Regions from separate parts of the Homo sapiens genome. Here region 2 is linked to region 1. The links come from fine-mapping of genetic effects on gene expression. A gene starts in region 1. The other region holds a variant in brackets. All regions are shown on one strand. Distances are between the middles of the regions.

Evidence for each region. PIP is the estimated chance that this variant, and not a neighbour inherited with it, causes the effect. A credible set is the group of variants that fine-mapping cannot tell apart.
Region 2: its variant is the best candidate, but not a certain one, in a credible set for the expression of LINC02376 in monocytes after LPS (Quach 2016, PIP 0.70).

The regions. Positions count from the first base shown.
Region 1 is chr12:127,282,785-127,285,617 of GRCh38, forward strand. It overlaps LINC02376 (long intergenic non-protein coding RNA 2376), which reads right to left and starts at 1,499. Exons shown (of 4, transcript NR_146537.1): 1 at 1,358-1,499; 2 at 452-852. LOC124903050 (a long non-coding RNA gene) reads right to left here. Exons shown (of 3, transcript XR_007063523.1): 3 at 1,864-2,833.
Region 2 is chr12:127,236,075-127,238,878 of GRCh38, forward strand. No RefSeq gene overlaps it. Among named protein-coding and RNA genes, the nearest start is that of LINC02376, 47 kb to the right of the region's middle. The variant A/G (reference allele first, on the strand shown) is at 1,639.

The sequences.
Region 1 (2,833 bases):
GATCCAAGCCCACATCCATAGGACCTGAGGCTACAGTGTACCATCCCTCACCTGCTCCCCACTGTGCTTCATAACACCAGGTGCAGAGGACAGTGGGGCCAGAGGCGGTGGTGGATAAGAAGTGACTAGGATGAGGATGTGAAAAGGGCAAATATTCACTTGCCTCTCTTGTGACATATTCACATACCATAGAAAGCTATTTCTCCATCTCTAGCTCCTCAGAGAACTTTCTGTGGAATTGTAATGCATGTCCTTGAAAAAGTGCAGGCAGCTGAAATGCATGACAGTTGAAGCACTTGGATCTCATTGTCAGACTGCGCATTTTCTAACCGTGAAGGGCTTTCTCGGTTTAGAGACTATTAGTTCAAACTCTAAGTAGTCCATTTATTTTGCTCAGAAAACTGTAATGCATTTCCTAAATTTCCTCTTCTGAGGTTTAAAAATAACCTACCTTAGCAGCAGACATCAATTCCTTTAAATCAGTTCCTGCTTGATCATCCAGGTTGTCTCTTTTCCGGATTCACTTTACGTATCCTAGTCCAAGTCACCCCTCTCTGCCCCCCACAGTGTTACTATCAAGAAGGGGGCCAGGCGAGGGTGTCAGACTTCCCTGGCTGTAGACAGGGATCAGATCTGTCATTCTCTGTCATGTGTGACTTGGCCTATGCTTGTGGATGTGGCTTTACTAGGTTCATTGAGATTGTTTATTTCTTCTTTTAATTTTTGAGCTTATTATGAATGGTTTTAGACTTTCCTGAATATCTACATTTTTATCCAGTCTGTTAACATTTTCTGATATTCTTCACTCTTTTGAGATAATTTTAAGGAATTTTTGTCTTTGTCCTGATGAACCTGTAGGATAGAACTTTTGCTATTTTCTAGTGACTATGTTGCTTTTTGAATATCAGCCTTAAACACACATTGACCCATAAACACACCTTGAATCCAATCAGTGGGTTTCTCTCTTTCTAGTTATTTTTTGAGTAGCTCTATCTTTAGGAAGAAAATAAAAGAAAAGAAAAAGCAAGGAGGGAAGAAACGAAGGAAGAAAGGAAGAAAAGAAGGAAGGAAGGAAGGAAAGAAGGAAGGAAGGAAGGAAAGAAGGAAGGAAGGAAGGAAAGAGAAAGAGAAAGAAAAGAAATAAGCCAACAAATTCTTATAGTTTGCTGCCAAATTCAGTGTTTCTAAGGTTTTGAAGACCTGGGGTGACTTCAGGTTTTTTTAGACTTTTTAAATCAATTCGTAATTTTCACGGATTTTGTTATTCTTCAATTTGGGAAGAACAAAAACCTTTTGATGACTTCATTTCCCCTCTTCACATCCTGCTTGCTTATTATGAAAACAAACAACGCAATACCATCATCTCCCCATGAAACCCAGCATGACCTGGGCCTTGCTTAAATCTTCAGGCACCACCACAGACTTGGTCATCTCCAGAAGGAGCTGAAGTGAAGAAGCCGGCAGCCAGCAGTCCCTCCATGGGGCCAAAGGCTCTTGCAGCTCCACCCCGGTTGCCAGTGCCCTGCTCAGGCAGAACACTTGGTGTGGAATCCTGTGTGTTTTTCTATTTCAAACACAAACAGGTGCCTGGCAACCGTCAGGGAGACTGGGAGAGGAGAGACCTATCCCTTCCATGGCCAAGGCACATGCAGAAATGAAAATATTTTAATGGCACTCAGGAAAATGGATGAGACTCTGAAGCTGGAAGCAACCACGCTTTAGGATTTAGCCACCCAAGGCTCAAGTGGCCTAACAAGAAAACGGCACCCAAAGTTAAGCCATGGCTGCTGCCTACCCTGTGTATGTGTTATCGGCCAAAGGGGATCACTGCCCAGTGCACTAGAGGCCAATACCAAGACACTGTTTTTTTTGAGAAAATATAAAAGCTTTTTATTGTACATCAACCAACAAGGAGACAGAAGTACAGCTCAAATCTGTCTTCCTGTGCTGGCTTTAAGGCAGTAATTTTATTAGAAAAGGTTTAGGGGTGGATTCTGGGGTTAGTAGGTAATTGGTAGAAGGAAAAGGGAGGTCTGGAAAGTCCTCAGCCTCACACAGTTATCTCTTCATACCTCCTCATGGGTCTCATGTGCAAATTTGGGGGTAGTTAGTATGAAACTTGTGTTGAAATTCAGGCTGTGACATCAGCAAGCTTGTTCTGTGCAGACTTTATTTGGCCACATTGGTTCCAACCAATTTCAGCCAGTTCTTTTTATCTCATAAGCAGAGGGAGTTTCAACATCTCCACACGTTGTTTCTTTTTTGTCTGTCATCTTATAAACTCAAGAATTGCAGTGAGTTACTAGTTTCTTTAACTCTGGGGCATGACATCACGTGGACTGTGCCAAGGCTTCTTGGGCAGGATGCTCTGTAGCTGAGATCACCCATGGCCACATCCTGGTCTCATTCTTCTTTCTCTCTTCAATTAAAATTGTTTTCCTGTAGCCCCAAGAGCCTACAAAGTTCACAGGAATCTTATGAGAACATGCCCCATTGTCTCATAGGACCAAGCCTTTGTCTGAGTAATGTACATGCTTGTTTGTGTATCTTTTGCCTCGTATTACAAAGTTTGTTCTTGAATTGCATGTGAGCCCCATGTAACCCTGTGAAACAGGAAGTGTTGGCCTCATTGGATCCAATTTTCAGAGGAGGCCCAAAGAATTTAACTGACTTACCAGAGGGCATCTAGCATGTCACCAAAGGAGCAAAGGTAGAAGGTGGCTCCTGAGCCCTCAGATTCAATGCTCACTTATTTCAATGCCTCATGTCACTCTGAAGCCATGAGGTAAACTGAGAAAGTGCAGCCTCTGGGCTCCCTGCATGGGCAGCACTA
Region 2 (2,804 bases), 47 kb before region 1:
TCAGAGTTGTGCCCTGCACCTTCTCATGGAAGGGCTCAGCGGGATTGGGTCCCAGTTGCTCACAGCAGTAAATGGCTCATAAATATACTTTACGTCATCGTGAATTTGTGTCCCAAATGGACTCTGGATGCTCAAGGTCTGGCTTCAGCATCTATTTCCAGGGGATCTCAGCCGAAGATGTTACTGTCTAAACGTTTAATAAAGTTCCCGAAATCATGAAATACTTGGGGTAAAGAAGTGTTTGTGTATGTGTCTGTGTGTCTGTGTGTGCATATGTGTGTTTGTTAATCTGTGTGTTTGTGTGTGTGCATGTGTGTGTATGTATGTGTGCATATGTGTGTATGTGTTTGTGTGTGTGTGTGCATGTGTGTTTGTGTGCGTATTTGTGTGTGTCTGTGTGTATGTATTGTGTGTATATGTGTGTCTGTGTGTGTTTGCATATTTGTGTGTATTTATGTGTGTCTGTGTGTATATGCGTGTGTGTATCTGTGTATGTGTGTGCATACGTGTGTTTGTGTAAGTGTGTTTGTGTGTCTGTGTGGGTATGTGTGTGCATATGTGTGTTTGTGTATGTGTCTGTGTGTATATGTCTGTGTGTTTCTGTGTGTATGTGTGTATATGTGTGTGTGTCTGTGTGTATGTGTGTATATGTGTGTTTGTGCATGTCTGTGTATGTGTGTGCATAAGTGTGTTTGCGGGTCTGTGTGAGTATGTGTGCATGTGTGTGTCTGTGTGTGTATGTGGGTGTATATGTGTGTGTGTCTGTGCGTGTATATGTGTGTTTGTGTGTCTGTGTATGTGTGGCATAAGTGTGTTTGTGTGTGGGTATGTGTGTTTGTGTGTCTGCATATGTGTGCTTGTGTGTAATGTAATGAAGGTGTTTAATTTCATTTCAGGATTAAACTGGACAGAACGGGGGCAGCCCTCACCACACAGCACCATGTAAACCTCTGGGAATTAACGGGAATTGATGAGAATCGTGGCCTGGGGGTACTTTCACCTTCTGCCAGGCTTGGTGTGGCCTCTTCACATAGGCTGCCATCAGAAGGGACCCCTGGCTAAAGGCTTCTTGGTGAGATTTAGAGACATTGGGAGTCTTGCTAGTAAAGACGGAGTAATTTTACGGTGAAAATAATGTCTCACACATCAGTTACGCCAGTCATCTAAATCTCTGTACTTTCACGGTAGAGCTCAATCCATAGACTCTTCCGGAAACTCTGAAATTAGGAACTACTGTAACATTCCTGCTACAAATATAGAACTGAAGTTTGAGGAAGTTAAAAAATCTACAGTAGGTCAGGCGTAGGGGCAGAGCTGGGGTCTTACCCATGCCTTAGAAGCCACTGCTCTCAGAAACGCCATCATGTTGAGTCTATTGATTGGGCCTCGTGAGGTTGGGCTGATGTCATTTTCTGACCACTTCATGCCGTCCAATCTGAGGATTTCTATCATCCCAGAGCTGAAAGCTTATTTTTCACTCTTGCATTTTCTGAAACAAACAAAAAATATATTAGCTGTAATATTTTCTCCCCACATTGTATGGAAGCATTCATCAGTCTTTTCCTCAACGATGCAGTTCGCTGCATTAGAAATGCTTAAGTTCAGACCTTGAATTACGCCCTGTGCGTGGTGACTTCT[A/G]GGGGTGTGGAAATACTACCAGGTGGCAGAGGACATAAGCCTGCAAAGTGTGTCCTGGCCCTCAGAGTCACGTCTTGCTAATCTCCAGCCCCAGAGCAGGGCTTCTCTGGCCCACTCCTGGCTCCAGGCTCTGGTTCCTCTAGGCAGATGCAGTCCCAGGCCAGAACCTAGGGTTTGGTGAGTGGAGCATCCTGGTTACCTATCACAGCAGAACTAAGCTGATGCTGTGGCTTGGATTAGCAACAGTCACTAAAAGGTTTTATGAAACCCTGCAATCCTGTTCAACATTCAATGAAACAAAAATGCAGTGCTTCTGGGCTGCGTTGTAAAGTGCTTTAACCTCAATGAAATCCCTAAAGCAGTGCTTTAAATAATAATTTAAATTGAATGATTGAGATTTGTAGCCCCGCTAGATTTTCAATTTCTTCACCAAAACTTACTCTATTTTTGAGACAGGATGTTCTTTCCTTTCTAATGGGGAAAACCCCAAATGCCACAACAATTTGAGCAACAAGTTGTGAAACAAAGCCCTGTTCTTCTTGTTAGCTCAGTTGTGCATCACAAGACAACATTTATGTGACTTTAATGGATTTACTGGAAGTTTAGCAGGAGACAAGAGAATGACTCTTCAATTATTGTGACAATGCATTTGTTGCCATTAGTATCTGCAAATCGACGTCATGTGTGACATCGATAAGACTGAACAGCACATCTTAGGAAGGGCTCAGTACTAGATGTGGCACCTGAATGGCAGCCAGTTCCTTCCTCACAATGACTCTGCCATTTGTAAAGGCTGGAAAAATACGTTATGGTTGGTATAGCCTATCCACAGCAGGCTATCTCACAGACCCACCTCACACTTACATCTACTCTGGTCATATTCGTGATGTGAACTTGAGAATTCAAAAGTGCATTATTCTGTTTGTCACCTAGATAAAGTCTACCTATATAGCAAGGAGGAAAAAGAAGGCATAGGAGGCAGAAAGTGCTCTCCATTGATTCTTAGGTACATCCACACCTTGGTTCTACCTTCCTTCTCTTTCTTGGAATAAGTCATTCCTTTTAGCTTGAACTACTTGGAGATATTTCCTGTCCCTTGTAAACAAATAACCTGAAACAAGAATATAGCAGATCCTGGACTAAGGTAATAGGTGAAAACCAGGTAA